Homo sapiens: one gene and its partner. The protein of the gene in region 2 purifies or fractionates together with the protein of the main gene of each other region. This does not show direct contact. Each region holds a gene or a part of one and is shown on either strand. Other genes may lie near its edges.

Region 1 (3,614 bases), on a different chromosome or scaffold from region 2:
CTCCACAAACACCTGCGGGCGGCAGAGCCCTGTGTCAGGCACCCAGGCAGCACCCCCGGGGCCCCCACCCGCCCAATGGCCCGGAGCCTGGCACGCACCTTGTGCTTTAGGAGAACGATGAGCTGGGAGCGCAGGATCAGGCCCTGGAGCCGGGCAGGCTGCAAGACAGGCCCGCGGTCAGGGCCACGGGCCCGAGGGTGGGAGGCTGCGCTGGAATGCTGTGTCGGGCCCCGCTCTGACCCTGTTCCGGCCAGATTTCCCATCTGGGCATGGGCCCCGTGTCGGTGGCTACCTGCTCACACCAGCCTCGCCATGGCATCCCACACGCACAATGCCACGGGACCCAAGGATCGGCGACAGGGTAGCGGGGCCTGACCGCGCACAGCAGAGAGCCAAGGGCCCAGGGATGGTGGCTTTGCTGCAGGGCAGATGCAGCCCCACTGGGTCCCAATAAAAACCAACCTCCAAACACCCAGTGTCCACGTCTAAAAGACACACAGCAGTGGCCGAGCTGTGTGTCCTGTCAGGGCCTCCTGACAAAGTCACGGCCCCCAGTGCCACGGCTCTCAGCCCAGCCTGGGTGCCAACCCCAAGACCCTGCCAGGCCGCAGCCCCCCCCACCAGCCTCAGCGTCCACACAGCCCTCCATGGCTGCACACTCAGCTTCCGGCACTCCTGGAACTGCCAGTGCACCCAAACGTGCAGCTTCCCCATCCTGCAAACCTTGCCGTGTGCTTCCCACCAATGGACTCGACAGAGGTCACATAGGCAGGACCCTGTCTATGGGGTGCCCGGTACCTGGGTGTCATCGGCATGCTCCACCACGGGGAAGCCGTTGTGATTGGACGCCGTGTCGCTCAGCACGTCCACAATGACGCCGACCTTCTCACGCCGCCTCAGGCAGGTCACTGGTGTGCTCATCACCTCCCTGCCGGAGGAGCCCGGCCACACATGCCCGTCACACGCCACCAACTCCCACAGTTACCTCTGCGGGCTGGTGAGGTGTGAAGCCGCTGGACAGGAAACGCGGGGCTGCCTGGAGCCCGCAAGCCGTGCACCCTGCCCCTGTGCAACAAGAGGCCGCTGGACACCCTCCCCACCCACAGGTGTCCTGGGCGCTGTACCTGGCAGTGAGTGAGTGTGAGGTGACCGGGGCCTCCCAGTGCAGGAAGGGCACACTCTGCAGCTGAATGTGCATGTCGTACAGGCCCTGCGGGCGGGGCGGGAACACAGGGCTTGAGGAGTCCACACCCACCCCTGGAGCCCCGAGCCTACCCCTGGGAGCCCAGAGGCCGCCCCCAGAAACCCTGAGCCTACCCCCCGGGACCGGCTGTTTGGAGGCTCACAGGGGCCCCTCCCCTATGGCAGCACCCACGCTCTCAGGGTGAGGCTTCGAGGCCCTGGCGCACCTCAATGAAGACGTCGCCCACGATCTTGGCGGTCATGAGCACCAGCATGATGGGGAAGCCGTAGGTCACGTTGCTGGTGGCCTCCATCATGATGACGGTCAGGCTCAGTGTCATCCGCACAATCCCGCCTGCGGGAGCCATCATGAACCCCAGCACGTCCACCCTCCTGGCTCAGGGTCACGTGGCCACTGCCTTCTCTGCAGCACCCATCCCATCCACCTGCTCCCAGACCCTAGCCCCGCAAGGACAGCCATGGCCCCCTCCAGACCCCGTGGAGCTCCCCACCCATCGGGCAAGAGCTGGGACATACCCAGCTGGGCAGCAGCTCCCATCAGGGCGTATTTGCCGGGGTCCGCCCAGATCTGTGGGAGGTGACACGGAGGAGGTGTCAGTGTGGTGGCAGGCCCAAACCCACCAAGATACACAGACGGAGGAGGCCCTGCCCAGGCCCAGCAGCCCCACAGCCAGGAACAAACCTCGTGGCCGCGTACATACACACAGAACAACCTAGCACAGTACACCCTGCTGCGGAGGCTGCATCCTTGGCCTGAACCAGGCGCTCAGCACCCGAGCAACAGGGGAGTGGCAGGCATGGAGGATGCAGAGGGCACAGTCACCACGCAGCAGCCCAGGCCAACTAGGGAGCACCGTCCAGCATGAGGAGTGAAACCCCGGCACACACGACACAGAGAGCCCCGGGAACATCAGGCTGGGCCACAGAACCCAGGCATGGAGGCTGCAGAAAGCGGGGCACGAGGGTCGGTGGGCACAGGGTTTCCATTCTGGGATGACGGAACATTCTAGAAGTGGTAGTGACGGCCGCACTGCCTCGTGAACGTGAGAAACGCCGCTGAACTGCCCTCTTTAAAACGATGAGTTTTACGGTATTTGAATCATGTTTCAATTTTAAAAACCAAACCAAACCCTTGTGCGGAGGGAGATGGGCAGAGCACACGGGCCTGGGGAGCAGGAGTGGGCGCTTCCTGCCGGGGATGAGAAGCATGGCCGGGGGCTTCCTGCCAGGGCCTCTTACAGGTTTTCAGTCTTATTTAAGCGACTGAAATGAGAAACAGAAGACACATAAGAGAACCCAGTCCCAGCAGAGGCAGGCAGAGAAGGAAGGCCTGCGGGGGCTGAGGTCTGGAGGGCAGTGTATGCCGCTCTGGCCCCCGGCCTCACAGAGAGCAGCCCTGGCCGGACATCCACCCCATGGAGTCTAGAAACAGCTCTGCAGCAGCCCACAATCACCTCTGCTTTTCATCACATTCTCAAGAATAAGGACACGAGCCTCCGCCCCCTACCTTCGCCTGGTCCAGACTCCACACATGGGCTGCGCTGCCACAGTACACGCTGCCACCACAGCAGGACAACGCCCACGGCCCGTGAACCACGCGAGGACAACGCCCACGGCCCGTGAACCACGTGAGGTGCGACACTTTTGTCCTGCCCTGGGACTTCTGCTCCGGCCCGCGATGCCGCAAGACCTGGCTCAGCTGCAGGGCCCCACAGCCTCCCCTCCGGCCCCACTCACCGCCGCCCCCGTGAGGTAGGACAGGGAGATCCCAAAGAGCCGGCCCCAGGCAGCCCCGATGAGCAGGGACGGGATGAAGACCCCGGCAGACACCGTGAGCCCGTAGGTCCAGCAGGCCAGGAAGAAGTAGACCAGCGTGAACAGGCCGAGGGTCAGGGGGTTGTAGGAGCCTAGGAGAGAAGAGGGGCTGACGGGGCCTCCACGACTCCCGCCTCCGCAGGACTGCCCTGCCCCGCTGCCCAGTCTCGGGCCTCACAGTCACCTTCCAGGAGCCCAGCAACCTGAGCTCCCGAGCCCAGCGGTCCCCAGAAGGCTCCCTGTTCTCAGCCTCCCTGGGAAGCAGAAAGGCTAAAAGGATCCCATGGGGAGGCCACAGGGGAAGAGGCTCTGCGGGGCCCTGATGCCAGCAGAAGCAGGAGCCGCGTCCAGCGGGGCGGCCCAGCTGGGTCTAGCAGCGCCAGGTCTACACTCCATGGGTGTGCACCGTGGTGCAGCTCGCAGCCTGGCTCCGGGAAGAGGGTGCCCCCCACAGCCTGGGGTTCCTTTCCTGGAGCAGGCAGCACTGTACTGCGTGCAGGGCGGGTGAGACCGCCAGGGACACAACTGCAGAGGTGAAAGGCCGGCACTCCAAGGTCGCGGTCTGCGCTTCCGTGAAACACTTGTGGTCGAGCGAG
Region 2 (3,817 bases):
AAATGCATCCATTCAATAAATATCTGAATGTTTCTAAAGCGATACAGTTTAAGGCATTATGCTATCAAAAGAGACAAAGCTGCTACTCTCATGGGTAGTCAGTCCATTAGTAAACAAATATAGAATATAATGTCACATATTGCTAAGAGACAAGAAATGCAAGAAAGCAGACAGAACACAGGGATGAGGGCTGCTCTTTTAGATCAATCGTGAGAGAAGGCTGCTCTGAGGAGGAGATATTGAGCACAGATCTGAATGAATTGGGGGTGCAGAACAACATAGTGGGGACTGAGCATTCCCACGTGAAAGGCATAGGCACTGCAAAACTCCCATCACAGGAGCATATCTGGTGCACTGGAACAGAAGTCAGAAGGCTGTGATTGCAGTACAGAGAGCAGGAAGGGAGAAGCATGAGATATGATGGAAGAAACAGCAGGGGCCCTTCGTGGTTCATGGACAGCCTGTGAACCATATCTGGGGTCTAGATTTTATTCTACGTGTGACAGGCAGCTGGTAGAAGAGTTTGAGCAGAGAAGTAATAACTAATCTGAATTACTCTAAAATGATTACACTGCTTCTTTTGTGAACTGACTAGTCCCTGGAGTGAGGTGTTTACCTACGCTGCTTTTAATATTCATTTCAACGTGTTTTATTTAGCAAATATTTGGCCTCCATGGTATAATATAATGATATAATTTCCCTCTAGTGGAAAAATGGAAATACAACTCCATTAGGCCCTACTGGCATACTCTCCCGAACAACTTTCTTAGACTTTTATTGTGTTGGAGCTCAATAAAAATTACTGTAAAACACTTCATGCCTCTGAATTATTCGACTCCCTTTGGAATCACAGAGAAAAATGAATGTAATAGCAAAACTGAGAAAAATATAATTCTGCATTTGTAAATAATTTTCTCCATGTAATAAAATTCACAGATGTAGGTAAAAATGCCTCCTTGCCTTTCATAGATGCTGTAGAGGGAAGAAAAAAAAAACATAAAGAGTTCAGAAGTCAGGAAAATGCCATTATACTATATTTCTATTTTACTACCAATCAATGAAACAAAATAGGCATTGGATATGGTATTCTCTATGCTCTTCCTCAAAGATAACATAGGTACAGCTCTGGAACATTTTAGAATCTTAAGAGATTTGGGGTTCATTTTATGCCCCCTGCACTTTTTTGAAAACAGGCAATGAAACTACTAACCATGAAATTGTGTGGATCAGAGGCATGACGGGAATGTAGACCTACTAATTCTTGTGTTTTATTCTAGTTTTAAAGGGATATTTTTCAGTGTTTTCAACACTAAAATATTCAAAGCATTGATATTGAAATATTCAATATTTTCTTCTAAGAAGGACATTTCACTATTTTGATAAACATATATTGGGTGCCTACGTGCTAGATGAAGGGGATAAGATAGATAAGACATGGCCCTCGCCCTTTGATGATTCATACTCTGATGGTGGAGACAGGCACACAAGTAATTATAAATCAATGCATTCAACAGCAATAGTAGAGGCATGCATGTTTGTTTATAATATGTTCAACACACATTTACTGAGCTCAAACATTGTGCCAAGTACTGATTCAGCTTAGAGAAAGAAAGGAGGGCTTCAGAGGGACATCATTTGAATTGGTTCTTAAAGGATGGATGAAAGGTGGTCAGAAGAGGCAGAGGAAAGAAAAGACGTCTAGGAAGACAAAGCATATTCTATAGTGCTTACAGCTATTAAGAGAGTATGACTAGAAGCAATTTGCATGGGTAAAATGAAGGGCGCATGCACAAGGCTGTTTAGTTCATACTATAATACCATAGTGTTTCATAAAGTAATAAACTTTTGTTTCTCTAGGGAGACCATCTGCGAGGTTATTGTAATTGTATATGCGGTTGGTGTCCTATCCATATATTTTTATCTTCCCCACTTCAGTACATGCTACCCTGACTTCCAATTGCCAGCACCTGTATTTCTTTGCCTGAGTTACCTCTGGCCACTAAAGCCTCTTCAGCTGCCTATGGGGCAGGCCAGGTCCAGAAAATTAACACTGCTCTCCCTTGATTATAACCGACATTTCTCAACCAATGACGCTCCAAATTTGGTGCATTAATACTCCAGCTCCGTAGTCCTCTGAATGAGATTATTCTCGAGGTGCGTGTTCTACACCGGTTTTTAAAGTTTCCCCAAGAAGATTAAGCTCCAGCTGCTTCGAGTGACAACTGGCTTGATAATGTAACCTTTTAATGGCTGCTTTCCCATTCCCGTCTCATTTTCCATACTCTTTATCATATCCCTTCTTCTACCTTACAAATAAAGTATATGCACTTGATTTCTCGTCTCAGGGTTTGCTTCTGAAGAAATCAAAGGGACAAGTGACAAGACCAGATGTTTATGTCACAAGGAGACCTCATGTGTTGTATCCAAGACAGATTACATGGGGAAGAGATTAGAGAAGGACAGGCCCCTAGAAGGTCATTCAGTGTGTGGGGACCTGTAGGCAGTGATGACTAAGGTGTCATCAGTGGGAAAGAAAAGTCAGGGAATCTAAAGAAAGACTAAAAGAAAGAACTGAAAAACTAGATACTCAACAAGGCAAAATAAAGGAGTCACATAAACATCTTAAAACAGTCAGATATTGCCATAGAAAAACAAAATAAAGTAGGGGAAGACCAAATTTGGGGAATGAGACGTTCCATTTAGGGAAAAGTTGTGGCCTCGACTAAGGCAATAATGATGGTGTACGAAAAAAAGGTACAAAATTAGGAGATAATTTAAAGGCAAAGGTTGATAGGCCCTACCAGCCAGGTTGGTCCCTAAATATAAAATTGACATAAAAGAAACAATGATTTGGAGAATAAAAAGCATTTGCCAGTGGAAGGTTAATATGAAGGTATCCATTTCTTTTCTTTTTAAAATTTAATTTGTAACTACTAGTGGCAGCAGTATGAAATTAATTATTGGGAAGTGATACTGTAAATTGTTCTAGCCGAAGTGTAGTTTGATAACGGTACAGGGAAATTAACATGTAATCTAAATATCCTGAATAGAAGAACTCTCTTTTAGTTTGAAATCTAAACTGGACACTGATTTTTCTACCAAAATCTAGACTTGAAATGGTTCCAGCTATCTCACTGTGACTTATAGGATGGTGATGAGGGCTGTAAGACACAAGCCTCCAATCAGAGATAGCTCAGAGATGGAAATCAGCTGCAGGACCCTGAAAAAACATCACCTTTCTATAAAAACAATCCTTATAGGAGGCTTTCTGCAGATATAACATAAAGAATCATCCTTAATAACATAATAAATGGGGATTCTGTATGTAAAATCGAATTATAAAAGAGAATTTTCTGCAATTTGTATTAAAGGCCTTGGAAAGAAAGAAAACACTCATCCTATATTCCTGTGGGACATACAAATGACCTGCGGATAGTTCAAAAGTAGACAATAAAAGAAGAGAACGTGGCAAGAGGCAGTCCCTCTAATTTCACCAAGTCTTTAGTGAGAACTGGATGCCAGTTATCAGAATCACATCATATATTACCTATCACTGTCAGTTACACAAAAAGAAATATGCTGTAGTCAACTGTACTGGAAATGTGCACAACTTTCATTATGTGCTATGGTGCAGTCATGCTGCATCAATCAGTTTGTGGTCTTTATGACATCTCAAGGTACTAAATGCCTTCAGGTGTTGCTCCCGAGAAACGGAGTAACTGGAGTTACAGGACGGACTCCAACTGCAGTGCACAGTTGGCAACTGAATTCAAAATCAAGGCTGATTCTGCACTGATTTTTCCAATATGTGATATGT

What was found.
Region 1: the proteins of TMEM47 (region 2) and CLCN7 purify together in Homo sapiens (affinity purification with mass spectrometry; one large-scale study listed by BioGRID and IntAct). This does not show direct contact.

Annotation. Positions count from the first base shown.
Region 1 is NC_000016.10:1,447,557-1,451,170, forward strand, and holds part of CLCN7 (H(+)/Cl(-) exchange transporter 7), read right to left. Parts: intron 3,111-3,614; coding exon 2,941-3,110; intron 1,772-2,940; coding exon 1,720-1,771; intron 1,538-1,719; coding exon 1,410-1,537; intron 1,211-1,409; coding exon 1,125-1,210; intron 929-1,124; coding exon 799-928; intron 159-798; coding exon 99-158; intron 13-98; coding exon 1-12. UniProt on the Homo sapiens protein: Slowly voltage-gated channel mediating the exchange of chloride ions against protons. Functions as antiporter and contributes to the acidification of the lysosome lumen and may be involved in maintaining lysosomal pH.
Region 2 is NC_000023.11:34,633,083-34,636,899, forward strand, and holds part of TMEM47 (transmembrane protein 47), read right to left. Parts: intron 1-3,817. UniProt on the Homo sapiens protein: Regulates cell junction organization in epithelial cells. May play a role in the transition from adherens junction to tight junction assembly.